Linked DNA regions of Homo sapiens: all the other regions are linked to region 3. The links come from fine-mapping of genetic effects on plasma protein levels. Region 3 holds a variant in brackets. A gene starts in each other region. All regions are shown on their reverse strands.

Region 1 (7,616 bases), not on the chromosome of region 3:
AATCAATCATGGGAGGATTTCTTAGTAACATTATTGCATTGATGACCAAATACATGCAGACTCCTCATTGGAAACAGAAGAACAATCAAGGAAGCAGAAACTCCAGGTGCCTAGTGGCAGCAGTAACATTTCACGGTTTAGATTTGCATTTGTGACCACAACCTTACTCTTAGCTATGAATAAAGAGTTTCACCAGGGCCAGCTCATGGGTGGGCAACCAACGCAGTCACACTGGGCCGTGCTTGGCTTAATGCTCTGTGGTCACCATGTTCAAATTCTTAATTTTTTTAACAAGGGGCCCCACAAATTATGTAGCCAGTCCTGAGTTTTACAAATTAGTTTGATTTCTGGAAGGGAACAGTGGATAGCTAATCCCCAGCTAAGGAGGCATCCTCCATAATCAAGGTTGTTTTCAACCTCCCTGAGCACATGTAAGTCCTAAGAAAGAGGGTTACATTTCTAGGACATGTTTTCTTCTGATATAAATTATATCATACATTATGTAGCGCTCCCTTTGAGAAAGTCGAGATTTTTCAGATTACAGAAATACACAGCAGTCTTCGTTTTATTGCTGTTAGCTAAAAAGAGGTTAATTTTTCTTAAAACTAAATTCTACTTAAAACTACCGTAGAATTCCTTTTTCATTTTCAACTTTTTAAACTTTATGAAATTTAACAAATACACTGAACGCTTGAAATTTCTTTGGAGATAGAAACTGGCAGGGCATGCTTCTCAGAATAGGAAAAAGAAAAAAAAAGAAACTGGCAGGACACATTGGCCATTCACAAAGAACACTGGTTTAGTTATCTTTATGATAAAGGTGTTTCAAGGCGTCAGATGTTTAAATTTACAAATAGCTTCTCTAGTCCTGAAGAGTTTCAAGTTAATTGTTAAGCTTATAAATGTTTAGACCATCTCAGAAACATTTAGACCATCTTAAATATAGGTTCATTTTGTTCCTCAACCAAAGATGACTTTGTTCTCCGGGGAACATTTGCCTATGTCTGGAGACATTTGGGGTCATTTAACTGCAGGGAGGGTGCACTGGCATTTAGTAGGTAGAGGCCAGAGATGCTGCTAAACATCCTGCAATGCACAGGACAGCCCCCACAACAGAATTTAACTGGCCAAAAATGGCAAAAGTGCCACAATTGAGAAAGGCTGGTCTAAACATATATGGCATTTGCCTCAGATAGGAAACGTGACAGCACTAAGCCACAAATCCAGTGACAAAGCCAAGAATACAGACAGTCTCCACAAGAAACACATATGGTTATATGAACAGTCATTTGGGAACTCCCTTTTTAAGACAGGGAGTTAGACATTTGACATACTGACCTGGAACCATGAATACATTTCTCATTAGAATAAATAAAAATAGTGACAAGAGTCCTTGGTTGGCTCTATAAAAAAAAAAAAAATACAGTATAGCTGAAATACCACACACTTCATAGAAAACAGAATTTGACAGTCAGAAGGGATCATTTCCAGTAGTAATTTCTGTTTTCTACCACTTCATTTCATGAAAAATGTACAATATCTACATCACAGTTCAGAATTTTCCATTCATCGGAGAATATAATCACCGTGTACAGTAGCAGTTTTTAAGGCAGAGTTTTGCAAACAGATGATGCATGAAACAAATTTGATTTTATTCTTTGTGGGATTTTTGTTTTGAGACGGAGCTTCACTCTGTCGTCCAGGCTTGAGTGCAGTGGCACGATCCCTGCTCATCCTAACCTCCGCCTCCCGGGTTCAAGCAATTATCCTGCCTCAGCCTCCTGAGTAGCTAGGATTACAGGTGCCCACCACCACACCTGGCTAATTTTTGAATATTTTTGTAGAGATGGGGTTTTGCCATGTTGGTCAGGCTGGTCTTGAACTCCTGACCTCAAGTGATCCACCTGCCTCAGCCTCCCAAAATGTTGGGATTACAGGTGTGAGCCACCATGCCCAGGCTCTTTGTGTGTGTTTTTTTTTTTGAGACAGACTCTCGCTCTGTCACCCAGGCTGGAGTGCAGTGGTGCAATCTCGGCTCACTGCAACCTCCGCCTCCCGGGTTCAAGCAATTCTCCGTCTCAGCCTCCCGAGTAGCTGGGATTACAGGCGCCTAGCCACCACGCCCAGCTAATTTTTGAATTTTTAGTAGAGACACCATCTTGGCCAGGCTGGTCTTGAACTCCTGACCTCGTGATCCACCCGCCTGGGCCTCCCAAAGTGCCGGGATTACAGGTGTGAGCCACTGCGCCCGGCCCTCTTTGTGTTCTAAAAAGGAAAAAATATGAGCCAATATTTAAAATCAGGCTTTACATTTTTTATTTTTAAGTAAAAGTTCTCAGCTATTCGTGGAAAAAAAAAAAAAAAAAAAAAGCTGCCTACACTGTATGGCTGAATGGGAATTCCTGCATGGATACTCGGTGGAAATGGCCAATATCCACCCAGCCTTAGCAGGTTCCTCTGCAGTCACCTGGGCCCAACCAAGCACTCTTGTGCATTACCTGTTTAGTCCATGTGGATAAAGTGGATTTTGTGATCCCAGTTTTAGGGAAAAACGTTTTTCTTACTGTTAAGCAATTCAATTACAAACGGAAAAGGAGTAACTCCTTAAAAAGTGAGTGGAAGCATTGCTATCATTAATCAAGAATGAACTATAATTAATGAAGGATAGAATCTAGTACAAACTTGGGGCCAAGGCTAAGGAGATCCTTTACAGGGCCAAGTTGAAGGACGGGCAGAGGAGGTGGCAGTGACCGTCAAACCCTCATCATGAAATGGAAAAAATATCAACCTCTCGGCCAATAAAACTTTTTAAAAGTAAATTCATAGTTTGGTATATTGTATTTTAAAATAAAGGAGTTTGCCATTTCTAAGAAATCAGTTTCCCAAAACTACCATTTTAAGGGCCCGAAAAAAATTCCTTTAAGAAAAAGCAGGTATCTACACAGTCTGAGTTTTCCTCCCTGCTAGAACTGAAATCTGTTACGAAAGCCTCCAGCAGGGGGGCCTGCCTGGAATTGCCTAAGCTCCTAGCAGGTAATTTACACTGATCTTTAAAAACTACTAAGCCCTCCTCCTCCCCTCTATAAAACAAACCGGCCTTTCAGAACAGCTCTGGAAGGGGGGCAGAATGCCAGACGAAGAGACAACTTCCAGACCACGTCTCTCACCTCCCACCCATCAAATTCAGCCCACAAAAAGCTGTGGCCGCATTCTCATCTCAAGGCACCACGGCTTTCTTTGAACACCATATATCTTCCCAATTGGCCTCTTGCCCCATTATGTGTAAAAAACCGACTCTCTTTTCTGCAGAAAGAAATAACAAGGCAAAGGGTGTACAGGGCAACGTTTATATGCATCTACAGCATGCCAGGTGCCTACAGAACCTACCTCGGCCTAGGCGGTCCGTGCCCTAGCCGGGATCTGCAGGCGCCCTCATCCACGCTGGGAGACGGGAAGAGGAGAGGGAGGCGTGACAGGCGAGGGTGCCTGTGCTGCGCAGAAAGCGCTGCCAGGAGAAAAGAAGCAGTGAGCAAGGGCTTCTTCCATTTCAAAAACCTAATAACCAAAACTTGGAGGAATCTGCCTGAGATACTTAAAAAAAAGAGGAAAGAGAAACCTAGGAGGGGGTAAAATGCTTTTAAGACGAATCACTTGTTTTCGTAATAGACCCTGCGCGCGAGTTTCCTAGACTGCCGCGAGAAGAAGGAAAGCGAGGGAGCAGGAAAGGAGAGGCTTCGGAGCCCCTAAACTAACGTCTCTTTTCTTATTAGTAATAGTTTGCTCCAGGGTGAGTCATTTATTATCCTAGCGTTGGCCTCTTTATCAGTAAAGTAGGGGTGAAAATGCATCTTAGCCGGGCTGGCGTTAGGATTCAATGAAGTTAAATGAAGTTAAGCCCCTGGCACCCATGGGATGGCAGCGAGTCTGTTCGTTCCCTGCCTATCCACGCCCGCAGCCAACCCCTCCGACATCTAAGCTACACGGACCAGGGGCAAGAGGCCAGAAAGTGACTTTCAGGGGACACGGGGCACCGGCGTCCCAGCCCCACTGAGCGGACGGAAAATGAAGGTGGAAGGAAGAGGCGCCGCTCCATTCCGGTCCCGGGCGCACCCCGGTTCTGCTTCCTCCTCCGCGGGGGAGCCCAGCCCGCCCGGGGCCACGGGGCACTGGCTGAGAGCCGGCTCCCTCCCACCCATCCTTCTCAGCCTTCCCCCACCGCCGGGCGGCCGAGCAGGGGAACACGAGGGAGAGCCGGTTACCTGGAGTGGGCGTCTGACCCCGGAGTCTCAGGAGGATGCCCAGCCGCTCCTGCTCCACCAAGCTCCCGCCCCGCGCCGCGCTCTAGGCGCTCCGGAGCTGCGCCTGCAGCCCTCACACCAGCGTGGCCCGCCCCGGGGCCGCCCCCAGAGGCCCCGCCTTTCTAGGCCCCGCCCACCACGTCCCCGCCTCGCCCACCTGCGCGAGCTCGGGGCTGGGGACTTGCTGCGGACTCGCGGTTCCCGCCTACAGGCGAGGGCGCCCTCTGGGCACTGACGTGGTCTGGGAGTAGCGCTGCGATCCTAGTGCTTCCTCGCTCCTCTTCCTCACTGTGCTCTGATTCTTAAGAGGTGTGTGAGCGGCGTCTTTTTAAACATTTTATGCCTCCCTTCCTCGAAAGCAGGAAACTCGAGAAATGCTGCCTTTTCTGATTTTAAACATGAAAATATGTTACAGAACAACAATAAAATTAAATTCCAAGGTTCTCGATATGTAAAGTTTAGAGATAACCATGTAGGTGTTTTTTTCTCTCCCCTAACGAACCTTGCTTCCTAAATTTAGCATTTAAGAACTCATTACATTCATGTGTATTTCCACATAAAAATTAAGATCAAATTAAACTGTGGAACAATCCACAGTGCTGTGGAAAGTAGGAAAAAACCTTCCCCGCCCTTATAGCACAGATCTTTGTGTCAGTTATAAAAGTTGACACAGTTCTCTTTGTAACAAGGGGAATATTGTGTCTGTGTCTTCTTTCGTTGGATTTTTAGCTCCTAGAAAACAGAACGAGGTCTTATTTGTTTCCATGTTGTTTAAAAAAAATTCTGGCCGGGCGCGGTGGCTCACGCCTGTAATCCCAGCACTTTGGGAGGCCGAGGCGGGCGGATCACCAGGTCAGGAGATCGAGACCATCCTGGCTAACATGGTGAAACCGCGTCTCTACTAAATATACAAAAAATTAGCCAGGCGTGGTGGCGGGCGCCTGTAGTCCCAGCTACTCGGGAGGCTGAGTCAGGAGAATGGCGTGAACCCGGGAGGCGGAGCTTGCAGTGAGCCGAGATCGTGTCACTGCACTCCAGCCTGGGCAACAGAGCGAGACTCCATCTCAAAAAAAAAAAAAAAAAAAAAAAAATCCAACTCAGAGGCCATTAGACTGTGATATGTTTGACACTTGCCTGATTTGTCAACAAAAATTAACATAAGATGATGGTATAGAGGAAGAAAGACTTCCCCTCTACTCTCTGAGGCTTGGATAACTAAGTCTATGAAATAAATTGACTGCAGGTAGATTAACAAGAGAAAAAGTACACAGATTTCGTGTAGGGGGTATCACAGAAAAGAAAAACTAATATTCCCTCTGCCTCCCCCAACAAAAACTGAGATTTTAGGAGCTTGTGTATCCTCTTCATTGGGGAGGGACAATTTAGGGGAGAGGAAATGATTTTGGGAAAAACTCCTGAACTCCTTCAATGGCTAGCTTTGTTTAATATCTCATGAAATTTTTCATGAGCAATTCAAGCATAATTGTTAAGAGCAAGTAGATTAGGTAAATGTAAATGGAATAAAAGTTTATAAACTTTTAAAAATAATTTGTTTTATAAAATTTGTCTACTTAAAAATAGTTTTAAAAATCTTTTTTGGTGACTTGAAATTTCGAACATATTAAATTAAGTAATAGATATTCATTAAATGTCTGAGTCATTTGTAAGTTAAAATACTGACATGTTAATTGCTAAACATAAGTTTAAAGTATAGCCGGGGCTGGGCACAGTGGCTCATGCCTGTAATTCCAGCACTTTGGGAGGCCGAGGTGGGTGGATCACCTGAAGTCAGGAGTTTGAGTCCAGCCTGGCCAACATACCAAAACCCCGTCTCTACTAAAAATACAAAAATTAGCCAGCTGCGGTGGCGTGTGCCTGCAGTCCCAGCTACTCAGGAGGCTGAGGCATGAGAATCGCTTGAACCCGGGAGGTGGAGGTTGCAGTGAGCTGAGATCGTGCCACTGCACTCTGGCCTGCGTGACAAAGCAAGGCTCCATCTCAAAAATAAATAAATTAATTAATTAAAAATAAAATATAGCTGGCTGTTTGCAATGGCTCACGCTTGTAATTCCAACACTTTAGGAAGCCGAGGTACAAGTATCACTTGAGCCTGGGAGTTTGAGATCAGCCTGGGCAGCATAGCCAGACCTCACCTCTACAAAATAAAAATAGATAAATTAACCAGGGGTGGTGGCCAAGCAATAGATTTATGAATTAACTTTTGGAATATATCTTGTTTGTCAGTTGGATACTGCCTGTATACCATAAGTGTAATCCATTTTGTTTGTGTATGTGACAGGGTCTCACTCTGTTACTCAGGCTGGAGCACAGTGGCGCAATCACAGCTCACTGCAGCCTCAACTTACCCCTGCTCAGGTGATTCTCTCACCTCAACCTCCCAAGTAGCTGGGACTACAGGTGTGTGCCACCATGCCCGGTAATTTTTTGGTATTTTTTGTAGAGATAGGGTTTCACCATGTTGCCCAGGCTGGGTTTGAACTCCCACGCTCAAGCGATCCACCCACCTCAGTCTCCCATAATGCTGGGATTACAGGTGTGAGCCACCTTGCCCAGCCCACTTATTTTTAATGCCTGCAATAACATACACCCATAAATCTATACAAGTAGTTTAGAAGGTATTTCTGGAATGCTTAGGGGTGTATCAGTCAGGGCCCAGTCAGAAAACAGAAATCACAGCAATTACTTTTACAGAGAATTTAAGGTCATGAAGATTGGCAAGGCAAAAACATTGTAGTAACAGAGAGAGAGTAACTGCAGGAAGCAGCTGCCATGCACAGAGCTGGGGAGAGGGGAAGTGTTGGGGTTATCAGAACCTAACAGCCAGGAGAGGGCCCCTGGTTGGCTGGGAGTCAGACCTCAAAGGAGGGGGCGGTACCCAGCTGGTGCTTTTATCTCTGAAGGTAAATATTGAGGCTGGATGGGAGAGGGTGGATTAAAACAAACAAACAAATCTAAGAAACTGGAACCAGCTGTTGCTGCAGCCAGGGAGAAGAGCCATTGCTTGGTAACATGGACAGGAACAGTAAGCAGCTATAAAGTAGCAAGTCCCTCTCCTCAAGCACCCCTTATAAGCAAAACCTTATAGGAAATGTGATTTGCTAAGTCCCAGCCCTGGCTCACAAAGCAGAAGATAGAAGCTTGAGTTTGAACTCTAAGACATACTTCAATAACCAGCACAAGGAGCAAACTCATGATCACAAACACCCAACTCTCCTAATATTATAGATGTGGGAAAGTGTCTGATAAACACAGCTGTCATAGTAATGATTAATACAATAGCAATATATTCTTAAAATG
Region 2 (7,248 bases), not on the chromosome of region 3:
AACACAGGCCACTCAGATAGGTGTTCTGGTCACACGTTCGAGACAGCCCAGGGTCACAGGCCTAAAGAAAGCAAAGGCCAAAGATTTGGGTCTCCTATTTGCTATGTGTCTTTTGGGCAACATCAACCAAAACTAGGAACGTTCAGAGTCCTTGTCCTCTTTCTCACTTCCTCTATCCAACTGGTTACCAAGGCAAGGAATGTCCGCCTCCACAGTCTCTACTGTCCATCCCTCCCATCCTACCAATGCTCTATGCCAATGGATGCTCACCGCCTGTAGGACTGGTGGTGAGTCTGGACTCCTTATCTGGGCTTACACTGGGCACGACCCCACATTTCCAGGTCCATCTTCTCCTAGTCCCAATCTCTTTTTCTGTGTTCCAGCCAAATCAAATTATCAAGATTCCCAGAATATACAGTGCCTCTTTCTTTCTTTCTTTTTTTTTTTTTTTTTTGAGATGGAGTCTTCGCTCTATCGCCTAGGCTGGACTGCATGGCATGATCTCGGCTCACTGCAAGCTTCGCCTCCCGGGTTCACGCCATTCTCCTGCCTCAGCCTTCTGAGTAGCTGGGACTACAGGCACCCGCCACTACACCCGGCTAATTTTTTGTATTTTTAGCAGAGACGGGGTTTCACCGTGTTAGCCAGGATGGTCTTGATCTCCCAACCTCGTGATCTGCCTGCCTCGGCCTCCCAAAGTGCTGGGATTACAGGCATGAGCCACCGCGCCCGGCCATGCCTCTTTCTTTCTTTTTCCCTTCCTCTCCCCTCCCCTCCGCCCCCCACTTTCTTTCTTTTTCTTTCTTTCTTTTTTTTTTTTGACGGAGTCTCGCTTTGTCACCCAGTCTGGAGTGCAGTGGTGCGATCTTGGCTCACTGCAACCTCTGCTTCCCGGGTTCAAGTGATTCTCCTGCCTCAACCTCCTCAGTAGCTGGGACTACAGGTGCCCACCACCACGCCCAGTTAATTTTTGTACTTTTAGTAGAGACGGGGTTTCACCATATTGGCCAGGATGGTCTCAAACTCCTGACCTTGTGTCTGCCCACCTCGGCCTCCCAAAGTGCTGGGATTACAGGAGTGAGCCACTGCACCCAGCCTTTTCTTTCTTTCCTTCCTTCCTTCTCCTTCCTTCCTTCATCTTTCTTTTTCTTCTTCCTTCCTTCCTATCTCTCTCTCCTCCTCTCCCCTTCCTTCCTTCCCTCCCTCCCTCCGTCCTTTCTTTCTTTCCTTTCTTTGCTTTCTTGCTTTCTTTCCTTGCTTTCTTTCTTTTCAGGTCTCACTCCCATCACCCAGGCTGGAGTGCAGTGGGACAATCATGGCTCACTGCAGCCTCAACTTCCTGGGCTCAGGTGATTCTCCTACCTCAGCCTCCCAAATAGCTGGGACTACAGGCACACGCCACCATGCCTGGCTATTTTTTTTTTTTGTAGAGATGGCATTTTGCCATGTTGCCCAGGCCAGTCTTAAACTCCTAGGCTCAAGCGATCCACCTGTCTCGGCCTCCCAAAGTCATTTCTTTCATTTATGACCCTTTCCTGCCAGATTGCAATTTCTTCAAAGTCTGGGCTTGTATCATGGTCATCTTTTTGCTTTGTTTTGTTTTTGTTCTTTTTAGACACAGGTCTCACTCTGTCTCCCTGGCTGTAGTGTAGTGGTATGATCAAGCTCACTGCAGCCTTGAACTCCTGGCCTCAACTGATCCTCCCAAGTAGCTGGGACTACACGTGTGTGCCACCATGCCCAGCTAATGAAAAAAACATTTTTTTTTTTTTTGTAGGGACAGGATTGACCAGGCTGGTCTTGAACTCCTGGCCTCAAGCAATCCTCCAGCTTTGGCTTCCCAAAGTGCTGGGATTACAGATGTGAGCCACCAGCCCGGCCTCATCAACTTTGTATCTCACTCCCCTTCCCCTGTCAGAACCTCGCCCAATGCCTGGCTATAATAGTAGCTAAATAAACAAGCTCTACTTAAATACTGGATGAATATTTCACTCAGTCTTCTATCTCTCACACAGAAGGATGCTGGCTGGGATAAGTTGGAGAGAGCAATGAACTTGGGATCAAATGAGAATTTTATTCAAATCCTGACTCTACCACTTTGCAACCATGTGACCTTGGTCAAGTCTCTTAACCCTTTGGTCCTGTTTCCTCGTGTGTGAAATGTGTACACTGATCCCTATCTCACCGGAGTGTCTTGAGGGTTTAAAAGAAATAAAGTGACCAGGTGTGGTAGCTCATGCCTGTAATCCCAGCATTTTGGGAGGCCGAGGCGGGCAGATCACCTCAGGTCAGGAGTACGAGACCAGCCTGGCCAACATGGCGAAACCCCATCTCTACTAAAAATACAAAAATTAGCCAAGGCATGGTGGCACACGCCTGTAATCCCAGCTACTCCGGAGGCTGAGGCAGGAGAATCGTTTGAACTCAGGAGGCGGAGGTTGCAGTGAACTGAGATCATGCCACTGCACTCCAGCCTGGGTGACAAGAGTGAAACTCTGTCTCAAAAAAAAAAAAAAAAGCAGTGTTTCCTAAACTTTAGGCATTTGTGTAATACTTCACAATATCTGCCATATGAGCATACTATTATTTTCTTAATATTTTCCTTTAAATTTTTGTTTAACTTCAGCCTCTTCCTAAGCAATATGATGTAAGAAATTATAAATTTGATGTGCTTGTCATATATTTTTTTCTAATAAGCCATTAAATTTATAACCATGAAAACATTAAAAGTTTGTATACCACTAAAAATCATATTGCATATCAATGATCACAGATATTTCATATTTGGAAGAAAAGTGAGGTTAAGTTATTGAAAATAGCTGGCTCTGCTGGGTGTGGTGGCTCACACCTGTAATCCCAGCACTTTGGAAGCTGAGGCAGGAAGATTCTTTTTTTTTTTTTGAAACGGAATTTCACTCTGCCGCCCAGGCTGGAGTGCAGTGGCATGATCTCGGCTCACTGCAAGCTCCGCCTCCCGGGTTCACACCATTCTCCTGCCTCAGCCTCCTGCGTAGCTGGGACTACAGGCGCCCGCGACCATGCCCGGCTGATTTTTTGTGTTTTTAGTAGAGATGGGGGTTTCACCGTGTTAGCCAGGATGGTCTCGATCTCCTGACCTCGTGATCCGCCTGCCTCGGCCTCCCAAGTGCTGGGATTAGAGGCAGGAGGATTCTTGAGCTCAAGACCAGTCTGGGCAACATGGTGACACTCTCTGTCTACAAAAAATATAAAAATTAGCTGGGCATGGTAGCATGCGCCTATAGTCCCAGCTAATTGGGAGGCTGAGGTGGGAGGATTACTTGAGTGCAGGGAGGTTGAGGCTACAATGAGCTGTGATCACGCCACTGCACTCCAGCCTGGGCAATAGAATAATAGAATGAGACCTTGTCTCAAAAAAAAAAAAAAAAAAAAAAAAAAGGCTGGTTCATCATTGGTTCTCAATAAACACTAATTGACTCTGATGCCTTTGACCATCTGTGGGAACTTTTATCCACATTCTTCTTCTTTTCTTCTCTCATTACTTGAATTGAGCTTCACAGGCTCTGATAACACCACTGCACAAAATTCTTACCAAAATGCTTCCATCTGTGGGGTCTGTTGCCAAGGTCATTCCCAAGTACTTGGAGGTATAGTTGGAACCTGTAGGCACCAGAAGGTTGGTCTGGAGGAGCTCAGGCAGTCTAGGTGGGCTGGGGCCAGCCTCAGTTTCCCCAAGATCCCATTCCTCCCAGCTCACCCCCCAGTTACTCACCTCTCAGGGTGACTGGCAGGCAGTGTCCTGTGCCCGACTGGCACTGATAGAGGCTTCCTGTGCTGTTCCCCTCCCCTGGAGCTCCCACGATGACCCTGGTGAGAAATCTCACCTGTGAGAGGGAGTGGCCCAGATCTGTACCCATCTACTCCTGCCTGCTAAGGAGGTTCAGATCTCCTGTCTCATTTCTCCAAGCACTGCAGCCATTCCCCTTCAAGAAGGTGCCTCTGGCCAGGTGGGGTGGCTCATGCCTGTAACTTTCGCATGAGGCCAAAGTACTTTGGGAGGCCGATGTCGGTGGATCACCTGAGGTCAGGAACTTGAGACCAGCCTGGCCAATATGGTGAAACCCCGTCTCTACTAAAAATACAACAATTAGCCCAGCATGGTGGTGCATGCCTGTAATCCCATCTATTTGGGAGGCTGAGGCAGGAGAATGGCTTGAACCTGGGAGGCACAGATTGCAGAGAGGTGAGATCTAACCGTTGCACTACAGCCTGGGCGACAAGAGCGAAAACTCCCTCTCAAAAAAAAAAAAAAGAAAAAAAAAAAAAGAAGATGCCTCCGTCCTCATCTCTTCCCTACAGAATCGCAGAGAAATAATTCCAAATGCTAAAATCCTAGAAAATTAAGGTTCCTTTGCATTTACAGTCTCTGAGGCCCAGAGAATGATCCGCCAGAATGTCTCATGATAAGTACATTCATTCAATCCTTGATTCAAAAGCCATTCATGGCTTACCTACTGTGTGCTGGGCGGTGGCGTATCTAAGAAGGGTTAGGAAGAGAGAACAGACTCCTGGCTTCCAGGCGCTCGCAGGGGAGTAAGGGAGTGTCAGGAACCTACTGGGCAATGCGAAGTGTTTTGGGGCTGGGATCCTTCCCTGTTCTGCACTTCCATGGCCTCCCTGATCGCGTGTATCCCGCTTTTTGATCCCTCACTCCTGTCTCTGAGGATTCCCACCACAGGCTCCTCCAGACGGGAACCCCTGGAGAGCTGCCTCGTGCCACCGACTAGCCCAGGCGAGGGTCGGGGAGGCGGCCACCGCCTCGGGGGCTGCCCCAGGGCGGGCATCAGGAGGAGGACTTGTGGGGCACAGCTCACCCGTTTCCGACCTGCAGGACGCGGTATCCAAAGTGCCTCCCGGCGCGCGGTGGGGAGAAGCTCCGCGCGCCCCGCACGTCCAGGTTGTAGCTCGAGGCCGGCGCTGAGGAAGGCAAGGGTCGTCAGCTGCGACCGAGGGACCCCCGCCCCTGCACGTGCCCAGCAGGTGGCCGATCCCAGGCCCACCCGGATGTCGCTCCCCAGGCCACCCGCACCCTGCGCTTCCCCTCCAGGGCGTTGACTTCTGGGAATATGGAAGGAGCAACTCCCGGCCCCCCTAGAGCTCTGAAAGCTCTTCCCAGGGCCTGAGGATACAACTTCCCGTTTGGCCTCTCTGCAAAAAAGGAAGGATGAGAAGTTAGAGGCTCCAGAGAGAGGAGCAGACCCAAGGGGCCCCAAGGCAGAGGGTGACCAAGTTCTCAGGCAGAGGCCAAGATGGGGATGCCCCCGAGCCGGGTGCGCCTCTGCCACCCACTTCTCCTGCGGTCATGGGGCCCAGGCGCCTCCTCCCACAGTCTCAGATTGTAGCTCCCCTGATCCCTGGGGGGCTGCCTCCCCACCCCACCGGGCCAGTCTTTCGGAGCATCTGTAGATCCCAGCTCCCTTCCCCCTCAGTCAGCCTGCCCAGGCGCCCTGGCACACCCAGCTGTCCTTTCCGCCCTGCTTTCTCTCCCCGCATGGAGTTTAGTTCAGAGCATCCTAGAATGTCATGGAGGCTGGGCCTTCATTTGTTTAGATGAAGGGTGTGGGGCTGGAAAGGGGAAAGGACTTGCCTAAAACGCGCAGAGGTGGCCCCAGAACCCAGCACCCTCCTCCCAGCTCTAGCTACTCAATAACTATCTGCCTTTTGTTTGTTTGTTGTTTAAGAGACAGAGTCTTGCTCTGTCACCCAGGCTGGAGTGCATTGGCACGAGCTTGGCTCACTGCAACCTCTGCCTCATGGGATGAAATGATTCTCATGCCTCAGCCTCCCGAGTAGCTGGGATTACAGGCCTGTGCCACCACGCCAAGCTAATTTTATTGTATTTTTAGTAGAGACGAGGTTTTGCCATGTTGGCCAGTCTGTCTTAAATTCCTGACCTCAAGTAATCTGCCCACTTTAGCCTCCTAAAGTGCTGGGATTACAGGCGTGAGCCACCGCGCCTGGCCCTATCTGTCTTTTTAAAGAACCCACTGCCCCTTCTTATGCTCCCTTCTCTGTCTTTGCCTCCACCCCTTGCTTATTTGTTTCTTTTATTTCCCCACTCTCCCCTTTCTCCTTCCAAGATCCCTGGGCCCCATATCCCTAAGGCCAATCCCACTTTTAGGGGGCAGCTCCTTGTTTACTCCAGCTGCACCAAGCCCTGCAGTTTCTCTGGTCACAGACACATGTCCCTTCCCCTGCCTCCTCCCTTGCCTACCGAAGAAAAAGAACCCAGACAGCAGCGCCATGGCCATCACAGTGATGCAGGAATCCTTCATCCTTCCAGCACTCGAGGGACCTGTGGCCCCAGGGGCAGCGTCAGGAGGCCCGTGGGATTTGCTGGCAACCTAGACAGGGTGAAAGAGGAAAATGATCATGCCCTTTGGCCTCTTACAGTGGTACTTTCTCACAGAGGCAACAGGCTGGTGACACTGGCAGGCGGGGAGGGAGGTGTGCCTGCAGGAGTTGTGAAACCGCAGGGGTTCAGGGAGGAAGTGTAAGCAAGTTAGAGACATTTCCTGTGCCTGCTTGCATTTTCACATCATCCAAAAGCTGACAGCATGTCAGGGAGATGACAGTCTCCACTGCTGTCATGGTTTCTCACTAACATCCCAACTAAGGGCTCTGTAAAGCTCAGCAGAGGACTGGTCTAATAAACAGTGGCAAAATTACAATGGAATGCTATGCAGCAGTGAAAAAGAATGAGGGAAGGAAAAATAAAACGGGGAGAAAGTGAGAGCTTTCTCTGGACCTTGAAAGATGTACATGAACTACTATTAAAGAAAAGAGCAGATTACAGAACAGTGTATTTAACCCATTTTGGTTCTAAAATGTAAAATCTAAAGAATTGGAGGCTGGGTGCAGTGGCTCACTGGCTGTAATTCCAGCCCTTTGGGGCTTCAGGAGGTGGAGGTAAGAGCATCTCTTGAAGCCAGGAATCAAGACCAGCCTGGGCGACAAAGTGAAACTTTGTCTTTAAAAAAAAAAAAAATTGGAGAAAATATTTGCAAATCATATCTCTAATAAGGGATTTGTTTCCAGAATATATTTTTTAAAACTCTTATAATTCAACAATAAAAAGACAAATAACCAGTTTTTTTTGTTTTGTTTTAAATTTTTTGAGACAAGGTCTTGCTCTGTCACCCAAGCGAGAGTGCACTGGCGCGATCACAGCTCAATGCAACCTTGAACTCCCAGAATCAAGCGATCCTC
Region 3 (7,616 bases):
TGATTTCAACACCAGATTCCACCAAAGTCGCCCTGGGGGCTCAGCACCATTCCACACAAACCAGAGGAAGAAAAGGCATGGGGGTGGCCCATGGGAGGTTTCTGTGGGCTGAGCCTGCTCGCCTGGCTGGATTTCAATCACACAACCATGCCTCCATGCAAAAGAGTCTGGGAAATGAGTGGCCCCTGTGCCAGGAAGAAGGGAAATAGGTTTGGAGATCAGCTGCAGAGATAATCTGATAACCAAGACTCCCTTCCTTCTCTGAATTCAGCCATGCAGGCCCCACTTCCCCTTCCCAATGGCGCCTTGCTTTTTTTTTTTAGATGGGGTTTCACTCTTGTTGCCCAGGCTGGCACCATGTGGGCTCACTGCAACTTCCACCTCCCAGGTTCTAGCGATTCTCCTGTCTCAGCCTCCCAAGTGGCTGGGATTACAGGCGCATGCCACCACACTTGGTTAATTTTTGTATTTTTAGTAGAGATGGGGTTTCATCATATTGGTCAAGCTGGTCTCGAACTCCTGACCTTAGGTGATCCGCCCACCTCGGCCTCCCAAAGTTCTGGGATTACAGGCATGAGCCACCGTGCCAGGTACTTTTTTTCCCTTAATACTGTGTGTGGAGATCGTTTTGTCACAGCACACAAGGACTATGTCCCCATTCTCTTCAACAGTTTCATGGTATTCCTCTGGATACATGAGGTAGTTTTATTTCATGAATTTCCTATGATGGACATTTAGGTTGTTTCCAATCTTTTGCCACTACAAACAATGCCACAATGTATGCTCTTGATTTGCTTAAGAAATTAATAGAAATGAGGCTGGCACCATGACTCGTGCCTGTAATCTCAGCACTCTGGGGGGGAAGCTGAGGCGGGTAGATCACTTGAGGTGAGGAGTTCGAGACCAGCCTGGCCAACATGGTGAAACCCCATCTCTACTAAACACACACACACACACACACACACACACACACACACACACACACACACACACACAATTAGCCAGGAATGGTCGCAGTGCCTGTAATCCCAGCTACTCCAGAAGGTGAGGCAGGAGATTGCTTGAATCTGGGAGACAGAGGTTGCAGTGAGCCAAGAGCTGAGATCGTGCCACTGAACTCCAGCCTGGGTGATAGAGTGAGACTACGTCTCAAAAAAAAAAAAAAAAGAAAAAAAAAAAGAAAAAAAAAAGAAAGAAAAGAAAAGAAAGAAATTAGTAGAAATGGAACAAAGAATATTTACAATTTAAATACAGATATATTACCCTCCAAAGAAGTTTAATTTATGCCCCACTACCTGTCATGTCTGAGTTTCCTTACACCCTCACCAGTAGAAGTTTCAGGATTTTTTTTTTAGCTTTGCTAATCTGAGAGACGAAAAAGTGGCATTTCACTACCACATTAATTTGCTTCTCTTTTACGAGTGAGCTTGAGCATCTCTGCCTAGATGAAGTCATGCATGTTTCCTCTGCTATGAACTAGCTGCTCATGTCTCTGGCTCACTTTTCTATTGGATTGTTGGTCTTTCTGAAATTGATTTGTAGGTGCTTTATATGTATCCAGGCAATTAACATTTTGTCTATCATATATGGCACAAATACATCCTGCCAGTCATCTTTTTACTACTAAGTAACTGTAAGTAGCTATTTCTGAACTACTGTATATTCTGTGTCATTGATCTCTGTATGCGTGTGCCAGTATGACACTGTTTTCATCACTGTAGCTTTCTAAGTCTTCTTGTTTTTTTTCCCCAAGACCAGGGTCTCGCTGTCACCCAGGCTGGAGTGCAGTAGCACAATCACAACTCGCTGCAGCCTCGACCTCCCAGGCTCAATTGATCCTCCCACCTCAGCCTCCTGAGTAGTTGTGATTACAGGTGCATGCCACCATGCCTGACTGATATGGTTTCACTGCGTCCCTACCCAAATCTCATCTAGAATTGTAACTCCCACAATTCCCACATGTTATGGGAAGAACCTGGTGGGAGGTGACTGAATTATGGGGGCAGGTCTTTACTGCACTGTTCTTTTGATAGTGAATGAGTCTCACGAGATCTGATGGTTTTAAAAACGGGAGTTTCCCTGCACAAGCTCTTTTTCTGCCTGCGGCCATTTATGTAAGACGTGACTTGCTCCTCCTTGCCTTCTGCCGTGATTGTGAGGCCTCCCCAGCTATGTGGAACTATAAGTCCATTAAACTTCTTTTCTTTTTTTTTTTTTTTGAGACACAGTCTAGCTCTGTCACTCAGGCTGCAGTGCAGTGGTGCTATCTTGGCTCACTGCAAACTCCGCCTCCCAGATTCAAGCGATTCTCCTTCCTCAGCCTTCCAAGTAGCTAGGATTACAGACGTGCCACCACGACTGGCTAATTTTTGTATTTTTTAGTAGAGATGGGGTTTCAACATGTTGGCCAGGCTAGTCTCGAACTCCTGACCTCAGGTGATCCACCTGCCTTGGCCTCCCAAAGTGCTGGGATTACAGGCATGAGCCACCGCACCTGGCCTAAACCTCTTTTGTAAATTGCCCAGTCTCAGGTATGTCTTTATCAGCAGCATGAAAACGGACTAAGGCACCAGCTAATTTTTTTTTTTTTTTTTTGTAGAGATAGGGTCTCTTTATGTTGCCCATGCTGGTCTTGAACTCCTGGGCTCAAGCAGTCAGCCCACCTTGGCCTCCCAAAATGCTGAGACTACAGGCATGTGCCACCATGCCCGGCAGCCTCCTAAGTCTTAATAGCTTGTACTAATATTTCTCTTAACCAAGATCTTTCAGCCTGGAAGTGATGAGGTTGCACATGTGCCTTCGAGGGATTCCTCTGAGAACTGCATGGAAACTCAGTTGTAGTGGGGAGGCAGGCCAGAGGCAGAGAGATGAGGAGGGCTCAGTTGGCAGAAAGAGTGTGAAGGTGGAATTGACAGGTAGCTGTGTGGAGATGAGGGCGAGAGGAGTGGAGTGGGTGCTGAGGTTCTTACCATGTGCTATTCCCCAGGATGGGGGAGCCAGGAGCAGCAGTAAACTTGGTTGTGGGGAGGGGAAGGAGAAAATGAGCTGACTTATCCACATTCGCATACATCGATACAATGTGGGCAACGTGCTTCGTCCCTGTTGGTGTGCGTGGTGTGTGTCTCAGTGCAGGACACGCTGGTCCACAGGTTCGTTTATTCTGGTTTGTCTGTGGTCTGTGGTGCTCACCATAATCCTAACCAGCAGCTCTCTCATCCCTGGTGCCCTACTGTTGGTGCACCTGTTCCACCCATGTCCTGCCCTCTCTCCTTATGGAAATCTTCCCTATCAAGATCCAGCCCAAGTCCCATCTTCTGGGAAGTCTTTTGTGACCATAGTAGCCTTCCTTAGCTGCTTTTTTTTTTTTTTTTTTTTTTTTTGAGACGGAGTCTCTCTCTGTTGCCCAAGCTGCAGTGCAGTGGTACCATCTCAGTTCACTGCAACCTCTGCCTCCTGGGTTCAAGCGATTCTCCTGCCTCAAGCTTCCCAAGTAGCTGGGATTACAGGCATGCACTACCATGCCTGGTTAATGTTTGTATTTTTAGTGGAGACAGGGTTTCACCATATTAGCCAGGCTGGTCTCAAACTCCTGGCCTCAAGTGATCCACCCAAGTCAGCCTCCCAAAATGCTG[A/G]GATTACAGGTGTGAGCCACCACATTTGGCCTCAGCTGCTTTCACACAGTCCTCAACCAAATACTGCAGACCAAGATCACCTGGATGTGCTGAAACGCTATTGTAATTATGGCTCCTTGTGGCTCAGTCTCTCCAAAGAATGAACTAAAACTTAACTCTCAACCTAGATTTCACCCTGACAGTCTGAGGCTTTCCTCTCTTCCACGTTTCTTTCCATCTGTTTCCTGGTTCTTCATCGCCCCTTGTCTGTGGGCTCACTGGCAGGAATGGGGCCGGCAGAAGCACAGGCATTCTCATGGTGCTGAGACCTTCGGTGGAAGCACCTCAAGCCACTTAACTTCCTCTAAGATATTCAAATTCCTAGCTTTCAACTACTCTGAAACCTTTCATTGTTAGGGCACAACTGATGTGCTTTCAGGCTTTAAAAAACCCTAGTTCCACTTGCTCTCCAACAAAGGTTGTGACTGAGGTCTCCTTCAGGGTCACTGACTGGTGAGATTCTAGATGTTTGGTTGTTTAGTCCCCGTTCTGGGACACTGACTCTGTCTATGGAAGCTCTTTGTTGCTGTTGTTGCAAACAATGATGTTAGGTGAGGAATTTAAAGCCCCATTTTAACAGGAAGACATCTGGCTGGGGGCAGTGGCTCAGCCTATAATCCAACACTTTGAGGCCGAGGCGGGCGGATCATCTGAAGTTGGGAGTTCTAGACCAGCCTGACCAACATGGAGAAACCCCATCTCTACTAAAAATACAAAATTAGCCAGGTGTAGTGGTGCATGCCTGTAATCTCAGCTACTTGGGAGGCTGAGGAAGGAGAATCGCTTTAACCCGAGAGGCGGAGGTTGCGGTGAGCTGAGATAATGCCATTGCACTCCAGCCTGGGCAACAAGAGCAAAACTCCGTCTCAAAAGCAAAACAAAACAAAACACAGTAAGACATCTGCCCTCACAGGTAGGAGGAAAAATATGGTCAGCCCTGAGCCCCAGCTCTGCCCTCCTTGTTTGCATATGTACACACACACACATACACACACACACACACACACACACACACAATCTCTCTCTCTCTCGGACACACAGCTGGCTTGACACTCCACAGGCAGCCAGGGCCACAGGGCAGACACCCCCATCATGGAGCCTGACCCCCTAAGAGGCAGTCGGGGGGGCATCCCGGAGATTATTCTGGAAGCATCAGAAGCTCATGCACTTCTTGAGGGCACAGCACGCTCTCCTTGGTGACATGAGCCTCATCATCTTCCTCCTTTCCTAGGTGAGGAGGCCAGTACCTCACAGAGGTGATCTTAACGATCCATGCCATGGAGTAGAAAGAGCTCTGGGATCTTCTGAATTTAGGTTTGAATTCACTGACAAGCTGTGTGATCTTAAGCAAGTTGCACAATTCCTTTGAACCTCTGTCTCCTCATCTCTAGCAGGGGCAGAATAAAAGGATCTGCCAATTGTTATAGGGTTCAAAATAACTGGCCAGGCGCAGTGGCCATGCCTGTAATCCCAGCACTTTAGGAGGCTGAGGTGGGTCAATCACCTGTCAGGAGTTCAAGACAAGCCTGGCCAACATGGTGAAACCGTCTCTACTAAAATTACAAAAATTAGCCAGGTGTGGTGGTGCGTGCCTGTAGTCCCAGCTACTCAGGAAGCTGAGACTGGAAAATCACTTGAACCCGGGAGGCAGAGGCTGCAGTGAGCTGAGATCGTACCACTGCACTCCAGCCTGCACAACAGAGTGAGACTCTGTCTCAAAAAACAATAATAATAATAATATACAGATAGTTCTTGGCACCTGGTATGTACTAAATACCCAGTAGCTCTTATGATTCTAGCCAGGCGGTGTCTGCTCATTCTGCCTCCCCTGGGGATCAGGTTAGGGAAGTCAAGCCCTTCTCACCCTCGCTTCTCAAAGTGGGTCCCAAAACAAGGAGCATGACCTGCAAGTGTGTTAGGAAGGCAGGCCCACCGCACCACGCTCTGCATTTTAACCTGATCGCAGGGGCATTCCTTTGCTAGTTGAGTGTGAGAAGCATGGCATCTTATGTGGTCCAGGCTAGTCCTCAGCCCAGATGAGGCCCCACATTCTTGCACTCCAATGTGAGCACAGCCGCCTCCTCTTTAGCGGGTCCCGCTCCTGACTCCAGCCACACACGAACAGCTGGTGTGTGCTGTGGCTTATGGTAAGCCACACATCATCCCATTTAATCCTCAGGTGATTCTGGGAAGCAAGGACTGGTCTACTCATTTTTCAAATGAGAAATCTGGCCGGGTGTGGTGGCGCATGCTTATAATCCCAGCACTTTGGGATGCTGAGGTAGGAGGATTGCTTGAGCTCAGGAGTTTGAGACCAGCCTGGCCAACATGGTGAGACCTCTGTCTCTTAAAAAAAATTTAAATAAATAAATAAATAAAACGAGAGATCTAAGTCTCTAAGATGAAGGAACATTTCCAAAGGTTGCCCAGCTACTCTGTCACAGAGTCAGGATTTAAACCCATTTGAATTTGGGCCATTTGAATCTAGAGCCACAGTCCTGACAAAAATTCTCTCCTTGAGCACGCTCTCGCCAGCCTTCCTCTGAACTCCCATCTCCACTAGACCTCAAACTTGGCATATTAAAACTGCAGACTTTCAGCACAAATGCTTAAGTCCACACCCCCATACTCCCATGAAAAGACTTAAGTTACATGGTGTCCAACATCTCAAGACCACATCTGTGGGATGCCCGTACCTGCCTGAGAAAGCCCAAAGCTGCTGAAAGAAATTACTGTTTGTTCCAGCAACACTAGAAGATGGACCCTGTCCCCCAGCCTCCAAGGGAGGGCAGGAGCCTAACCCTAAGCGCCAGTTAGCAAACCCAGACAGGTGTCACGCCAACCACACTCCTTCCTGCTCTCTCTGGTTCCCCTTCCTGACTCTTGAGCCCCCCTCCCAACCACCACCCCTCCCATCACCTCCGCACAAATCCAAGTGGAGCTCAGTTCCCGCTGGGCCCTGCTCTCTAAAGCAATGGCTTATGACTGATTAAAACCTGTCCCTGCTGGGCACGGTGGCTCACGCCTATAATCCCAGCACTTTGGGAGGTTGAAGCAGGCAGATCACTTGAAATCGGGAGTTCAAGACCAGCCTGGTCAACATGGCAAAACCCTGTCTCTACTAAAAATACAAAAATTAGCCAGGCATGGTGGTGCATGCTTGTAATCCCAGCTACTCGGAAGGCTGAGGTAGGAGAACTGCTTAAACCCAGGAGGTGGAGGTTGCAGTGAGCCAAGATGGCACCAATGCACTCCAGCCTGGGCAACAGAGTGAGACTCTGTCTCAGAAAAATAAATAAAACCTGTCCCTACCACTTTAGTGTCCGCCTTTACCTCTGACAGCTCTTCACCACTGTGTCATCCGTCTAACACTGATAGGACAGAAAATCCCCTGGGCCATTTCTCCACTCAGTCAACTTGATTAAAAGAAACCCTGTCCCAGGTTACTTGCAGGTGTGGGCCCCAGGCCGCTGGAGTCCGGGACTCACCTGTCCCAACGCGCATCCATTTTGGTAAAATGGACGAAGGGGAGAAATCTGTACCTATGTCGCAGCAGGGAGGGCAGCAGAAATACCAACAAGAGGGGTCTCTGAGTGACAGCCTTGGCACGCCCGAGGCATCCCTGGGGAACTCTGAAGCCCTGGGTGGTGACCGACAACCCTGGGGGACTGACAATGGGTACAAGCAGCAGAGATCACTGGAGCCTGTTCTTTCGGTGTCACTCCCAGCTGCCGTCTTGAAGGGGCCCTGCCCAGACAAGTTGCCTGGAAGTGTCTCTTTGCAGCCTCTGTAGGATTGTTGTGGAATGATCTGACGGTATCTGAAATCAGGCCTTGGCGAGCACAGGTCTTGGCATCCAGACACCATCTGGCCTCCCGAAGTGCTGGCATTATGTGTGTGACCCGCGGCGCCCAGCCTGCCCTTTCTTCTTGTCAGGCAGGTTTG
Region 4 (7,616 bases), not on the chromosome of region 3:
ATTTGGTTAGCAGAGTTAACTCTCTGAGAATATGCTTACCCTGGATGATTAGGAAAAAATGAGAATTTCTGGACTGGAAAAACTGAGGACCAGATTTTATAGAATCCTAACACGGCATTATCACCCCTATGAGTCTACCAATTTTTCTGACTGGTTGGTTGGCTTCCCCCTTTACCATTTTTTGATGACATTTATCTGTAATTGCACAAGCTTTCCTCTCCTGGCCACTTACTTAAGTAACATTCACACTTTATGGCTCATCTGAGGTCTTTTTTTCTGAAGGATCTTCTGAAAACTTCTGACCTTAATGAGTACAGTCTCCTATGAACCTCCACATTATTTATTTTCTATACCACTCATTTGGTACTGATCATAAAGTTTCTTTTTTTCTTTTCTTTTTTTTGAAACGGAGTTTCGCTCTTGTTGCCCAGGCTAGAGTGCAATGGCGTGATCTCGGCTCACTGCAACCTCCGTCTCCAGGGTTCAAGTGATTCTCCTGCCTCAGCCTCCTGTGTAGCTGGGATTACAGTCGCCCACCACCACGCCCAGCCAATTTTTTGTATTTTTAGTAGAGACAGGGTTTCACGATGTTGGCCAGGCTGTTCTAGAACTCCTGACCTAAGGTGATCCACCCGCCTGGGCCTCCCAAAGTGCTGGGATTACAGGCATGAGCCACCTTGCCCGGCCCATAAAGTTTCTCTTATTGATATTTATTGTTTCATAGTTTCTGGTCTTCCCAATTAGAATGTAAACCCATCAAGGATAAATATTGGATCTCAACCCTTCTAGTATTCCCTGAGATTAGCTTAGTTCCCTACACAAAGTGCACAGAAAATAATGAGAACAAGCCTACTTCTCCTCCTTCTTCTAACACCATCCATGGCCATATACATGATATGCACTGAGGATATTTGCATTCCTGCATTCATTCATTCAATGCTTAATTACAGATAAAAAAACAGCAAATAACTAAGAAGCTTTTAGGGGTACCACTCTATATTTACCAGAGTTCCGGAATGAAGAGTCTGTCCTATAGCTAGCTGAGAATATCTGTATTGATTTTACCTACTTAAATCTAAACTAACTTCTGGGGAAATTATAGTCTTCTTAAATTAAACTTGGTTCTTAAAGCTAAGGAAAACAATAATACTCATGTCCAGATTCAGAAATCTGATGAACAAATGGAAATACTTCTTGAAATACAATCCTGGTATGCTGTCACTTAAAGTCTGTAAAGATTCATTCAACCATCCTTCTATCCAATATTTACCAAATGCCTCTCATATGCATTTTAGTTCCCTGTTCTCCTGGGGCATACATTTTAGCATGGAGAAACAGACATTACACTAATTAAAAAAAATGAATGAACTGAATATCAGATAGTATGAAATGCCATGTAGAGAATTAAAGTCATGTCTGCTTCAGATTGTGTGACAAGAGAAGGTACAAGCCAGCTAAAATTTAAATGTCCAGAAGGAACTCTCTATGTGACGAACAGGAGGAAAAGCATACCAGATGGAGAAAATTGCCAGTGTATGGGCCACTGACTGGATTGTAGTGGTTGAGAAGGAATGATATGAGGTTGGACAAATAGGTAGCAGCCAGATCATAGAGGATTTAGTAAAGCAGCTTAATTAGAAATTTGGATTTTATTCTAACTGGAAGTTGTTTGAGGTCTTAAGCAGAAGAGTGACGTGATCACTTACGTTTTTTAAATAAAAAAAGTAAGTGATCATGTTCCACTGCTACATATGTACCCCACAAAATGAAAGCATATGCCCAGAAAAAAAATTATAAAAAAATCTTCGTAGCAGCTTTATATATAATAACTAAAATCTGAACACAGTCAAGGTGTCCATCAACAAGAAACAAACTGATATGTTTGTGCAATGGATTACTACCCATCAATAAAGAGAAACAAATTACTAATTCATGCAACTACATCGATGAATCTAAGAAACATTATACTGAGCAAAAGATGTCTTGCACAAAAGAGTATATACTCAAGTGGTTCCATTTATATGAAGTTCTAGAACAGGCAAAAATAATCTATGGTGAAAAAAATAGAAGAGTGGCTGGGTCAGAGGTAGATGTTATTATAAGAATAAAATGAGTCAATATGGTCAATAGTCACAAAGCAGTTCAAACAATGCCTGGCACACAGTTAATGTAATACAATGTTTAGTAAAAATCAAATATTTTATCCCTAATAACAGATTTTTAGTCCATTTATCAAGTATCTCCTTTTTACATTGTCTTCTATATAGAGACATTTTAGCTGACAACTTAGATACCAACTAAAATAAAACTGTCACCATCTCTCATTTTGATTGTTTAATGTTGAACTTTTCTAGGCCTCTTCCATTCATGATGTCAGACATTTCTCTGAAATTTGTTGGCATTCTATTCACAGTAAAATGTTTGTTCTGCACAAATAGGTATGGAAGGATCCCTCCATTGTCACTATTTCTCATAAGACTTTCCCTCATCAGAACGAACGCCTCTTTGCTAGGTGAAAGTCTTTTGGGTTCTGTCAGTCTCTACCTCACCTCCCTCTCTTTTGCCTTTCCGGTTTCCCACAGCTAATTCCACTGACTTATTCACTTGAAAGCTTAGCTCTATTCCAGTTCCTAGAACAGATTAACATGGGATTCAGCTCTCTAGCAAATTCCATTTACCCCAAGCAACTCACTCTCTGCTTTAATGATGGAGTTCCTACATTTGAGGATCCAAGTTTTATGTGCACCCAGTTTGCAGATACAGGCTTTATTCTTGGCCCCTGATACCAGGTTCTGAGACAGTATCTGCCTAGTACAGTAGCCTGATCCTAGGATGGAAGCTTTTCCATTCCCTGACCAATCCCTGCATTGTTGCAGCCCAGCTGACTATGAAAAGAACTCCCATATATTTTCCTAGGTTCTAAATATCACTTGCCTCAGATCTCTCATTGCAGGGTGGTGCCTGCCTTTGAAACAGTATTTCATCTTGGATTCCCTGTTACTAATCATTTGCAAAGAACACAACCAAGGACCACTATATCCATGGATACTGCTAAATTTCCACTCTCAGGTTCAACATGTGTTCCATTATATGAGTATCATGTGCTTTCTACTGCTAGCTACTATGAATAATCAGTCAAGTACTATTGAATGCTGTGAAATTAAGTTTTGCCACGATTCATCATCCAGTTAAAATTGTGCCAATTTCAGTTATCACTGTTACTAGCTCAATGGCCAACACTTTTTTTTTCTTTTTCTTTGCATTTAACAGTGTCTTGGAGCTGAACCCCATCGTAAATCAACCTGTTTCCCTTCTGTCTCAAGCTACTTTCCCAAGGTCTGTCTCTATGCGTGCCCCCCCGCTTTTAAATTCATTTCCTCAAAAAGCACCCTTTGTTTTTTACAATAACCCTAGGATAGCTATGAATCCTTTTCTCACACCATTCTAGATACCATCTTATGATGTTTTCATTCAGGGACTGCTATAAGACGTGAAACTTGTTTTAACACACCACAAATCAGATACCCAAATGAGCAATGTTTTCCCTCAAAATAGTTATGTTGGAGGCTATTTACTTAATCTAATGGTGTTATGAATGATCAAAGCATTTATTGAATTATTTAAAACTTGCCAGTTCCAGATCTTTGACCCTGTCAAAGCAGGCCAGTCCTATTACTTTATAGTATTTGATCAAGGAGGACTGTCCAGGTAAATCACTGTTCTAATAATCAGGCACAACTTGCTGTTACCAAAAAATTAGGTTTACCTATAAAGGATGAAAAATTTCTATTACTGGGGATATTTTGAAAAATAACCTCTGAAAGTAACTGTAAAAGTTTAAGTGTTGAGAAAAAGCATTATAGTTAGAATGGATTGCAACCTTTGTTTTTTTCTATATGCAATGAAGTTCTTTTTTTCAAGAAACAGTTCATGTTTTGGAAAGTGAAACCTAATTCACTATTACCAAAAAAAGAGGAGCAGAGGGAAATTCCGTAACTTGGAGGCTACAATAAATAATACCTTCGAGTCTGCAACATGGGACTTCCCCAGGAACAGCCAGCAGGTTTTGCTAAGTCAACTGTAATGCCCTTATCCAATCAGAATTAGGGAGGGAAAATGGCTTTGCAGATAAATATGGCACACTAGCCCCACGTTTTCTGAGACATTCCTCAATTGCTTAGACATATTCTGAGCCTACAGCAGAGGAACCTCCAGTCTCAGCACCATGAATCAAACTGCCATTCTGATTTGCTGCCTTATCTTTCTGACTCTAAGTGGCATTCAAGGTAAGGAACATCAAAGGATACTTAATTTGTAAAATGAGAAATAGGAATAGGTATAAATTCTAAAAATACAGAAATAATGTATTTGTAAAAGTTTCACTGCATGCTTATAAATAAGAGGGAAATAAATAGAGATTCCCTCAGATCATAAAACTTATATGAATTGAAGTGAGAGAAACAAATAGAATAAGAGAAAGAGAAGGAAAAAGGGAAGGAGGACAGAAGAGATGGGGAAGAGGGAGGATAGAGAGAGAAAATGTGAGGGAATGCGGACAGAGATGAGATACAGATACTTCCTTACCTAACTAAGCTCAATGAACCACATGAACTGTGCTTAAGGGTTTGACTTTATAATCAACAAGCTGCAATTCTTTTCTTCCAGATAATCAACTCTTTAATCATTTACAGTTGTGTTATGATGTGATCCATTCCTCCTCAGATTAAGTGACTATTTGCTGATATGGGGATATAGGTTCTGCTAAATACCACCAGTCTACATTAAATGCCTAAAATGAACACTGTGCTAACCTTCTCTGCTGTTCCTCTTTTCCTACAGGAGTACCTCTCTCTAGAACTGTACGCTGTACCTGCATCAGCATTAGTAATCAACCTGTTAATCCAAGGTCTTTAGAAAAACTTGAAATTATTCCTGCAAGCCAATTTTGTCCACGTGTTGAGATCATGTGAGTGAAATCCCATCTGATTATCACTTCCCTGGTTGTAATTATATACTGTATTAAATATGTAATGATAATAAAAAAAGATCAGTAAAGGGTTTGTGATGATTCTAAAACTAATGTACAGCAAACAAAAACATGCAGAGTGAAACTTAAATGTCTGACTTCAGAACTGCGTATGCCATCTGTTTTATTGACCCAACACAGTTTTAAATATTTTCATCCCTATTTATTTCTACAGTGCTACAATGAAAAAGAAGGGTGAGAAGAGATGTCTGAATCCAGAATCGAAGGCCATCAAGAATTTACTGAAAGCAGTTAGCAAGGAAAGGTAGGTTTGCTGTTGCCTGCAGAAGAATTGCTCTTTAGGAAACGGCAATCTTGGGAGTCAGAAATACTTGCATTGTGGTTTGCTGTGCAATCGCTGGTTTAAAAGTATGTTACCACCACGCCCTCCCCTACCTCCATTTATTTAAATGCTGAGGCACCATCTTGTGTGATAAGTATCAGAAGTTACCCTGATTACCAGTCAACCTTGAAGTACAGCTATAACTATCTAAGCAAAACTGACAACATTTTCCCCAAGTCTTTCATGGTTGAAAAAAGCAACCCCTATAATCCATAATGAATGCATAGCAGCAGGAAAGCTCAGTTATCTATTCTATGAACTCGGTACTTTCCAAACACAACCCAATCTGAAGCCAGAGTCAGACTATCACACTTTTATATCCCCTTTCTCTTCTTACAGGTCTAAAAGATCTCCTTAAAACCAGAGGGGAGCAAAATCGATGCAGTGCTTCCAAGGATGGACCACACAGAGGCTGCCTCTCCCATCACTTCCCTACATGGAGTATATGTCAAGCCATAATTGTTCTTAGTTTGCAGTTACACTAAAAGGTGACCAATGATGGTCACCAAATCAGCTGCTACTACTCCTGTAGGAAGGTTAATGTTCATCATCCTAAGCTATTCAGTAATAACTCTACCCTGGCACTATAATGTAAGCTCTACTGAGGTGCTATGTTCTTAGTGGATGTTCTGACCCTGCTTCAAATATTTCCCTCACCTTTCCCATCTTCCAAGGGTACTAAGGAATCTTTCTGCTTTGGGGTTTATCAGAATTCTCAGAATCTCAAATAACTAAAAGGTATGCAATCAAATCTGCTTTTTAAAGAATGCTCTTTACTTCATGGACTTCCACTGCCATCCTCCCAAGGGGCCCAAATTCTTTCAGTGGCTACCTACATACAATTCCAAACACATACAGGAAGGTAGAAATATCTGAAAATGTATGTGTAAGTATTCTTATTTAATGAAAGACTGTACAAAGTAGAAGTCTTAGATGTATATATTTCCTATATTGTTTTCAGTGTACATGGAATAACATGTAATTAAGTACTATGTATCAATGAGTAACAGGAAAATTTTAAAAATACAGATAGATATATGCTCTGCATGTTACATAAGATAAATGTGCTGAATGGTTTTCAAAATAAAAATGAGGTACTCTCCTGGAAATATTAAGAAAGACTATCTAAATGTTGAAAGATCAAAAGGTTAATAAAGTAATTATAACTAAGATGAAGTGCCTTGTGTGTCACTTGGTTGGGATATTTATTTCATAAGAAACTTAGATTGGAGAAATCTATGGCCTGGAGAAGAAGGTGGCATGGGCAGAAGACAAATGAGTTAGAGAATTACCACTCTCTCTCCTTCCAACTGTAATCTCCTGAAAGGCCCATCATATAAGATCCTACAGAACTAATGTAGCATAACAGAGCTTGGCCTAATCTCCAAATCCCTATAGCCAAATTTCTTTTTTTTTTAATCTCTTATTTTTTTAGACACAGGGTCTTCCTCTGTCACCCAAGCCGGAGTGCAGTGGTGCAATCATAGCTCACTGCAGCCTCGAACTCCTGGGCTCAAGTAATCCTCTGACCTCAGCCTCCAGAGAAGCTGGGATTACAGGTGCAAGCCACCACATCCAGCCCTATGGCCAAATTTCTCTAAGACATGTCCACTTGAATATCCCATAGGAACTTTAGTTTAAACTCCAAAATAAACTAATTCTCCTCTCCCTGAGATCTGTTTCTCCTCCTCTATTCTATGTCCTAGTTTAATTGCACCATCATCCAATCAGTTTCCCAAACCAGAAACCTGGGAGTAATTCTATACTACTTCTTCCTCTCCTCCCACATCCAATTACTTACTAAGAAGATCTTCACAATACATTTAGTTGGCAAATTATTAGCATCTAGAATATGTAAAGAATTCCCATAGATCAAAAAGGAAAAGACAAGGCTGGGTGTGGTGGCTCATGCCTGTAATCTCAGCACTTTGGGAAGCCAAGGCAGGAGGATTTCTTCAGCTCAGGAGTTTGAGACCAGCCTGGAAACACAGTGAGACCCTGTCTCTACCAAAAAAAATATATTTTTTTAGCTACTCAGGAGGCTGAGGCAGGAGGATCACCTGAGCCCAGGAGTCTGGGGTTACAGTGAGCTATGACTGCACCACTGCACTCCAGCTTGGGCAACAGAGTGAGACCTCATCTCTAAAAGAAAAAAAAAGAAGAAAAAAAAAAAGGAAACAGAAGTGAGTAAGAATTTCACAGAAGTAAGAAGCATAAGCCCCTAACATACAAAGATGTTCAACCTCA

Which allele goes with the higher level. Positions count from the first base shown, and alleles are read on the strand shown. Strength reflects both the effect of a copy and how common the allele is.
For the plasma level of the protein whose gene starts at base 4,383 in region 1, allele G in region 3 goes with a lower level than allele A (moderate association).
For the plasma level of the protein whose gene starts at base 6,410 in region 2, allele G in region 3 goes with a lower level than allele A (moderate association).
For the plasma level of the protein whose gene starts at base 4,160 in region 4, A is the high allele of the variant in region 3 and G is the other (moderate association).

What was found. PIP is the chance, under the fine-mapping model, that this variant and not a neighbour inherited with it causes the effect. The UK Biobank Pharma Proteomics Project read protein levels with antibody pairs (Olink). The fine-mapping took linkage between variants from a reference panel, not from the people measured, so its PIPs are less certain.
Region 1: GCNT1 starts here. The variant in region 3 is fine-mapped to the plasma level of the GCNT1 protein (UK Biobank, PIP 0.98).
Region 2: ITGAL starts here. The variant in region 3 is fine-mapped to the plasma level of the ITGAL protein (UK Biobank, PIP 0.99).
Region 4: CXCL10 starts here. The variant in region 3 is fine-mapped to the plasma level of the CXCL10 protein (UK Biobank, PIP 0.93).

The regions. Positions count from the first base shown.
Region 1 is chr9:76,455,949-76,463,564 of GRCh38, reverse strand. It overlaps GCNT1 (glucosaminyl (N-acetyl) transferase 1), which reads right to left and starts at 4,383. Exons shown (of 4, transcript NM_001490.5): 1 at 4,260-4,383; 2 at 3,388-3,505. RefSeq lists silencers at 113-162, 2,999-3,068, 4,059-4,598 and an enhancer at 3,339-3,448.
Region 2 is chr16:30,471,904-30,479,151 of GRCh38, reverse strand. ITGAL (integrin subunit alpha L) reads right to left here and starts at 6,410. Exons shown (of 31, transcript NM_002209.3): 1 at 6,254-6,410; 2 at 4,854-4,956; 3 at 3,752-3,846; 4 at 3,572-3,639; 5 at 1-61. The coding sequence starts at 6,314. RefSeq lists an enhancer at 6,180-6,269 and cis regulatory regions at 6,241-6,762, 6,241-6,790, 6,241-6,800, 6,241-6,803, 6,241-6,815.
Region 3 is chr12:111,758,363-111,765,978 of GRCh38, reverse strand. No RefSeq gene overlaps it. Among named protein-coding and RNA genes, the nearest start is that of ALDH2, 4.8 kb to the left of the region's middle. RefSeq lists enhancers at 3,780-4,315, 7,095-7,616. The variant A/G (reference allele first, on the strand shown) is at 3,633.
Region 4 is chr4:76,020,041-76,027,656 of GRCh38, reverse strand. CXCL10 (C-X-C motif chemokine ligand 10) reads left to right here and starts at 4,160. Exons shown (of 4, transcript NM_001565.4): 1 at 4,160-4,286; 2 at 4,840-4,966; 3 at 5,202-5,291; 4 at 5,709-6,539. The coding sequence starts at 4,226. The coding sequence ends at 5,727. It also overlaps a transcript of ART3 not described here.